Homo sapiens: one gene and its partner. The protein of the gene in region 1 purifies or fractionates together with the protein of each later gene. This does not show direct contact. Each region holds a gene or a part of one and is shown in the gene's direction. Other genes may lie near its edges.

What was found.
Region 2: the proteins of WDR7 (region 1) and DMXL1 purify together in Homo sapiens (affinity purification with mass spectrometry; one large-scale study listed by BioGRID and IntAct). This does not show direct contact.

What each region holds. Positions count from the first base shown.
Region 1 is NC_000018.10:56,689,003-56,693,414, forward strand, and holds part of WDR7 (WD repeat-containing protein 7), read left to right. Parts: intron 1-2,213; coding exon 2,214-2,359; intron 2,360-2,712; coding exon 2,713-2,815; intron 2,816-4,412.
Region 2 is NC_000005.10:119,147,587-119,151,542, forward strand, and holds part of DMXL1 (dmX-like protein 1), read left to right. Parts: intron 1-1,152; coding exon 1,153-2,835; intron 2,836-3,956.

The sequences.
Region 1 (4,412 bases):
GGAAGAAAACTACGGAACACTCAGCAGGAAATTGGACAAAAATATTTCACAAAAGATGAAAGCCAGATGGCCAGTAAATGTATAGAAAGGTGCTCAACTTCACTAATCATCATATTAAGACAATACTGAGATAGTACTACAACCCACCAGAATGGCTTTTTAAGATACTTATTATCATGAAGAAGTTTTCAATTGGGCTTACCATAAGCTGAGATTCAAATCTTTCATTTTCCCCTAATTTTTATATGGTTTTATTTTTAATTTTGTCTGTTTGTTTTGAGACAGAGTCTTGCTGTCGCCCAGGCTGGAGTGCAATGGTGCAATCTCGGCTCACTGTAACCTCTGCCTCTCAGGTTCAAGGGATTCTCCTGCCTCAGCCTCCCAAGTAGCTGGGATCACAGGCATGGACCACCACGCCTGACCAATTTTTGTATTTTTAGTAGAGATGGGTTTCACCTTGTTGCTCAGGCTGGTCTTGAACTCCTGGCATCAAGTGGTCAGCTTGCCTTGGCCTCCCAAAGGGCTGGGATTATAGGCATGAGCCACCGTGCCTGGCCTATATGGTTTTGTCTTACATACCTTTGAATCTTTAATCTGGAATTTATTTTGTATAAATTGTGAGATATAGATCCAATTTTATTTTTATGTCAGATGGACCCCCCCAGTTCCTGATGCCATTTGTTGAATAATTCATTCGTCTGTTGTCCCTTGATAATATACTATATTCCTACATTATTGGAATCTGTTTTCAGACTTCTGGATTTGTCTGCCCATTCATGAATTAATACTATATTGTTCTAACTTTTATAGTTGTATGATTTGCTTTAACAGATAATAGGGCTGGAGGGCTAGTTTCCCTTCCTTACTCTTTCTTGGAGTTTTCTTGGCTATAATTGTAGTGCTGATGTTATACACTGATAAATATTATAAGAAATCATGGTAAATGCAGCTAGGATGTGTTCTAACTTCAAGGCTGTATACAAGCAACTTCATTGTTTTCTTTAAAGAAAAGTAAAATAAAACCTCTGATCTATTGAGGAATGAGGAATTACTCATTCCTCCTGGGAAAATTTTCTAACAACATTTAATGTACTTTTTTCAAATATTAAAAGTGATAGAATAATTCTGCTAGGAATTATAAGAGCAGAGTTTTTAGCTTTGGCTCTATCACTTACTGGACACATGACTTTGAGCAATTGATCAAATCTTTATTTGTGTCCATTTCTTGTCTGTAAACTGGAATAGTAACATCTGCGGTGATTCTCAGGGTCATATGAGATAATAATTGTAAAGGTACTTTGTAAACTTTGCAGTGCCTTGCAAATGTAAAGCCCTATAAGGTTAGTAGCCTTTACTGCTGGTGAAATTATAGGGATTTGAATTTTATATGTGAAAATTATTACATAGTAAAATTGAGCCTGTTAACTATAGTATTTTAGAACATTGATGAAATAATGTAGAGCAAAGTAACTCCCTTATAATAATGAGTTATTCCCATGCCAGAGTTTATTGTTAGAAATGTTGCTACTGGGCCAGGCAAGGTGGCTCATGCCTGTAATCCCAGCACTTTAGGAGGCCAGGGTGGGAGGATCACTTGAGCCCAGGAGTTCGAGACCAGCCTGGGCAACATGGTGAGACCCTGTCTCTACAAGAAATAAGAAATAAAAAAGTTAGCAGGGCATGGTGGCATGCTCTTACAGTCCCAGCTAGGCTGAGGTAGGAGAATCACTTGAGCCCAGGAGTTTGAGGTTGCAGTGAGCTCTGATTGTGCCACTGCACTTCAGCCTGGGTGGCAGAGCAAGACTTTGTCTCAAGAAAAAAAAAAAAATGCTGTTACTAGACATAGAAATAAAACAGGGCTCAAGCCTGTATATTTGAGGTTGATTCCCTATTATTTGCAATTCTTTAATGGAATACTTTCACTAGATAGAAAGTCTGAGGATAACTGTTCCTGTAGTGGGGAGCACCCTCGCTCCACTTGTCATAGCCTATTCCCTGTCCACAGGGAGGTTACCCATAACTAGGGGCCTAGTTGTGTCTTCCCTATTGAAGGTGACCTCTCCCAGGGCTTATTGACAAACTTTCTTTATCTGATGCAGCAAACTGAGTTTTCTAAATACATTTCCAGGCTTTTTTTTTAAACTTGAAATGTCACTGGATCTTACTTTTTACAACAATATGGAGTAGATTGTGAATTTCTTTCTTCCTTGCAGGTGTTCGATGCCGGAGACTATTCCTTGTTGTGTTCAGGTCCTAGTGAAAATGGACAGACATGGACCGGGGGGGACTTTGTCTCATCAGATAAAGTCATCATTTGGACAGAAAATGGGCAAAGTTATATTTACAAACTACCTGCCAGGTATGCAGCAAGTAATAAATTAGGACAGTCATCAAAAGTAAAAGATTCAGAATTTAGGGTACAACCTGACTTTAAGAAAATGTATGTATTATAAATATTTAACTTTGATAAAACACTTCAGAACTTCTTAAGTTAGATTTTTAATTCCAATTTAACTTCTAAGTGCAAAAATTAGGTGGATTTTTATTTGAAGGACAATATTTTTATAACATTATTTAATTTAATGCCTGCATTAAATTAACTATAATTTAAAAATCCCCTTTTTGTCCAATACCAACAAACCTTGTCATATGGAATTATAAAGTATTTAATGTCAGTATTTTAATTGAATATTGTATTTTTCCCATATTCAGTTGCCTTCCAGCTAGTGATTCATTCCGCAGTGATGTGGGGAAGGCAGTTGAAAATTTAATTCCTCCTGTACAACATATCCTCTTGGATCGAAAAGATAAAGAGGTAAAATTCTTGAGGTGTCATTTATAATTGAAAGTTACATTGAAAAACTTCTACAACTGTATTTATTGTCTTGTGATAGGTTTAAAAAATTTGATACAATTCAAAGCACTGTGTTAAATGTAAAACATTTTGAGATGGTCAGTTATAAGGACATTTCAAAATCTGCTTGTTTAAAAACATATAATATGCCTATGAAATAACATTCGTTTTTCTAAGAGTACAAGTGATCTTATGCTAATTGCGTATTGAAATTGACTTTTTGATGAAGTTCATATTGATGGTGTAAATTATTTTACATACTATCATGCAATTATAAACATAGTGACAGATATATTTTTAGAAGAGCACACATAGTTATGTAATAATGCTGAGTAATAATAGTTCCTTTGTTGAACAAGGCATTGCAATACCTCCACAAAATCATGTAGCATTTTAAATCATTAGAAACTAGAAATAAAGAATAAAACATTTTTTCTCTATAAAAATAAAAGTTTATTGTGATTTCTGAAAACGTGCTTAATATCCACTTAATGTTGAAGTACAACAGCACTTAGTACTGGGTTTTCAACTCTATATTGAGCAGTAAGAAAGAAGCTTTGGCTTTGAAAGCAGAGTTTTTTTTGTTTTTTTTTTTTTTAATTGATGTTCTAGGTTTCCATGGCTTTATCATTCTGAACATTACGTCTCACGTTTATGTGGCCGGGTGGCTAGGGGAAGGGAATTGTTCTTTCCATGAATATTTTGAATATATAGAATTTGTATATCTATGTACAATTAAGATCATCTTTAGCCTGTCTGTTCTTTATTCAAACTTCCACTTACTGCTCTTCAACCTAGATAGTCATGTCCAATTAACCTAAGGAATAATGACTTGTATAAAAAATATACATAAGCAAAACCAAAAAAAAAATCATTTTCTTTAAATATCAGCTCCCTAATACGTTTTAAATTAAAAATGTGTATTTTGTGGTGTGTTGAAATGTAGAATATTGGTTATTACAGCTGCTGTAGCAATTTTTCCTTGTTAAATATATAGTTTATCAATTAAAAATTTTAGTCTGGGCGACATAGTGAGACCCCATCTCTACAAAAAAAAAAATTAGCATGGTGTGGTGGTACACGCCTGTAGTCCCAGCTACTTGGGAGGCTGAAGTGGGAAGATCCTTTGAGCTGGGAGGTGGAGGCTGCAGTGAGCTGTGATCGTGCCACTGCACTCCAGCCTGGGCAACATGGCGAGACCCTGTCTCAAAAGCAAAAAAAATTCAGTAAGTAAAGTCAAACGATTGGTTATGCTTAATATGTGTAGTTTCCATTGGCTAATGCTTTTAGCTGTTAATTACTGTATTTGATTAACCAGTATTTGAATACAGTAATTAGACTATTAACTATAATTGTCAAAACTGAAGTCAAATTTAATATTGCTTTTCAGGCTAAGATTCTGTTCTTTAATATTCCAGTATTTGTGAAGTAATCCTCCGAATTTTAGTAGAAGTCCACCACACTATTTAGTATTTTCAGATAGTACTTCATTGAAGGCACAAAATCTTGAGCTGAAAATGAAAGTACACATAAGATCCTAATGAATGGTTTTTGTTCC
Region 2 (3,956 bases), on another chromosome or scaffold:
TATATTCAAGTACCCTAAATTGAAGACTTATAGTTCTCATTATGTTTTCAGATTACTCTGACATTTATCAGCCAGTTCTAGTCTTAAATATTGATTTCTAAAACAAATTTTCTTTGTCTTTTTGGGAAGACAAAGGGACAGTTTCTGGAGCGGAGATGGTAACTAAGTTGTACTTTATTTGCAGACTTTGATGGTATTGGCAATAGCTGCCTGGAGCCATGATTCTGATTGTGTGGTTTCTGCTATATATTTATTATCCTTATTCCAGAGCAGTGGTTTTCAAAGTGTCCCCAGGCCAGCAGCATCAGCGTCCTGGAAACTTGTTAGAAATTGGCCACTCCATTTCTTGGGCCACCCAGGGTTACTGAATCTCAGACTCTGGGATGGGGCCCAGTGGCCTGGACTTACAAACCTTTAAAGTGATTCTTATGCTTGCAAAAGGTCAAGAACCACTGTTCTGGAGTATCAAGAATACTAATCAAAAATACAAATTAAGGCTTATGTTTTAGGAAACTAATAGTGCATGATTACTTTAAGTCTAAGCAAATGTTAAGTTGTAGTTAGGAATCTTCTCAGCATTTGTTATGGCAAATATACCTCAATCATGAAGGGCCCTGTAAAGTGACCATTCAGTACTTAAGTAAACATAGGCCATTCACATTTATATTGAAAAATGTGAAAGAGAAGGAGCCAGTGAGTGTTGACAAATTTAAAAAAATGCATTGATACCTTTAAAATTAGATTTATAATGTATAAAACTAGCAAAGAGCTGTGAAACAAATTCGGGATTAACTAGAATTAAATTCTGCCTATGCCTAAGTTGTTTGATTTAGGCCCAAGATGTTTAACCTTCAAGAATTGAAGTAAATTATCTCAGAGTTCCCTTTCAACTCTAGGTTTTGGTGATACTTTCTTTTTATATACCTTTCTGATGTCATTAAAAGCCTCTTTCTTACTATTCTTGCTGCCCCTTTTTAACTTAAATAAATATAGGCTGTCTATTATGCAGTTTAAAAAACATACAGCCAAGATGCCCCTTTGATTTTGTTCATATTTATAGTAGTTAATACAAAAGACTAAAATCGTAAGTACATAAAAACAGAAGTATTTAACCAAATTTGACATTTTGTTAACGGATTATTTTTATTTTAGGACATCTGAGTTCATCTTCTATATATCCTGCATGCAGTGCTCCTTATTTATTGGCAACTTCATGTTCAGATGAGAAAGTAAGATTCTGGAGATGCAGAGTAACAGATGGAGAATCTGCCACGTCAAAGAATGGAAAAATTGATCTTGCATACATTTGGGAAGAATGGCCATTACTTATTGAAGATGGACTTCAGAGCAATAGTAGTATAACTGTACCTGGTAGGCCTGTAGAAGTTAGCTGTGCACATACAAATCGTTTAGCAGTAGCTTATAAGCAGCCTGCATCTAATAGTAGATCTTCCCAGGACTTTGTGATGCATGTAAGTATTTTTGAATGTGAGTCAACAGGAGGTTCATGTTGGGTCCTTGAGCAGACAATTCATTTAGATGAGTTAAGCACAGTATTGGATTCTGGCATTAGTGTTGATAGCAATTTAGTGGCCTATAATAAACAAGACATGTATTTATCTAGTAAAGAGAATATCACATCAAACACAAAGCATTTAGTTCACTTAGATTGGATGTCTAGAGAAGACGGTTCTCATATCCTGACTGTAGGAATTGGATCAAAACTTTTTATGTATGGACCCCTGGCTGGCAAGGTACAAGACCAAACTGGTAAGGAAACCCTGGCATTTCCTCTCTGGGAGAGTACCAAAGTTGTGCCCCTTTCTAAATTTGTACTATTACGAAGTGTGGACCTAGTTTCTTCTGTAGATGGCTCCCCACCTTTTCCTGTTTCTTTATCGTGGGTCCGGGATGGCATCCTTGTGGTAGGAATGGACTGTGAAATGCATGTGTATTGCCAATGGCAACCATCTTCTAAACAAGAACCTGTTATAACAGATTCGTACAGTGGGAGCACTCCATCTATAACAAGTTTAATAAAACAGAGTAACTCCAGTTCTGGGTTACATCCTCCAAAGAAAACTCTGACTCGATCCATGACCAGTCTTGCACAGAAAATCTGTGGAAAGAAAACTGCATTCGATCCTTCAGTGGATATGGAAGATTCAGGTCTTTTTGAAGCAGCTCATGTACTTTCCCCGACTCTACCTCAGTATCATCCCTTGCAGCTTTTGGAACTCATGGATCTTGGTAAAGTTCGGAGAGCCAAGGCCATCTTGTCCCATCTTGTTAAGTGCATTGCTGGGGAAGTTGTGGCTCTGAATGAAGCTGAATCTAATCATGAACGCCGCCTTAGGTCTCTCACAATCAGTGCTAGTGGAAGCACTACCAGAGACCCCCAGGCATTCAACAAGGCTGAAAATACAGATTACACAGAAATAGATTCTGTTCCTCCACTTCCTTTATATGCCTTACTTGCAGCAGATGATGATAGCTGTTACTCATCTTTGGAGAAATCTAGTAATGAGAGTACGTTAAGTAAATCAAACCAATTATCTAAAGAAAGTTATGATGAGCTTTTTCAGACTCAACTTCTAATGACTGATACTCATATGTTAGAGACAGATGAAGAAAATACAAAGCCTAGAGTTATTGACCTTTCACAGTACAGTCCGACTTACTTTGGACCTGAGCATGCTCAGGTTCTTTCTGGCCACTTACTTCATTCTAGTTTACCAGGACTCAGCCGGATGGAGCAGATGTCTTTGATGGCCTTAGCAGATACAATTGCAACTACAAGCACTGATATTGGAGAAAGCCGAGACAGAAGCCAAGGTAAAACTAAACTCCGTACTGATAACATTTTTACTTACTTTCACAGAAAATAATTTTAAATAATTTTTATTAAAATGATGCCATTGGCTAGGCACAGGGGCTTATGCCTGTAAATTCAGCTCTTTGGGAGGCTGAGGCAGGAGGATCACTTGAACCTAGGAGTTTAAGACCAGTCTGGGCAACATAGTTGAGACCCCCATCTCTATGAAAACAAAAAAAAATTAGCCAGATATGGTGCCTCATGCCTATAGTCCTAGCTACTCAGGAGGCTGAGGTGGGATGATGCTTGAGCCCAGGAGGTTGAGCTGGCAGTGAACTGATTGTGCCACTGCACTACAGCCTGGACAATAGAGCAAGACCCTGTCTCTTAAAAAAAAAAATACCATGAAGGTTTTTTTTGGAAACATCTTTGCTACCTTCACAACAGTTTTAACTTTTTTTCCCCCCGAGACTATCATAAACAGCAAACTCTTAATATGCACTATTTATCCTGTAAATCATAGTACTATGAGCGAGTGCACAAAGACTCGTTATGCTGTTCATTTTTACTAATTTTCTGCTCAATAGTATAAAAGATCCAACTGAATCTTTCTGAGTTTAGCAAAATTTAACAGATTCTTATTAAACAATTATTTTAAGTACCTAAAAATGTGGTTTCTGGGTTTTTTCCCCTCATTTTGTAATAATCCACTATTAACAATTATAATTTGGTTTTTAAAACATTGAGTTTTTTTTAAATTAGCATTAATGTATGCTCCTACCTAGAAAAGCATAATGTAATTAGGTCTTTTCCTCACCCAGAGAGCATTTAAAAAAAAAATACTGCCAAGTTATGAACAGTTTGCCATAAAATCTCAAGTAAGTTCTGAAATGAACAAATTGAGCCTTGTAGACCATATATACGTCAGTATCCCTTTGAATGAAACTTGAAAGGAAAATATAGGGTAAATTTAATATAATAACAAAATTTAAATTTAAGAAAAATTAAGTTGGTTATGAATCTTGACACTTTTAGAGATATTACTAGTAGATACTATTTTTGATGTGAATATGTTATAGGTGTTTTATGTTTTTAGTTTTTGCTTCAAGGAAAAAATATCAGGCCCTCCCACCATAGAACT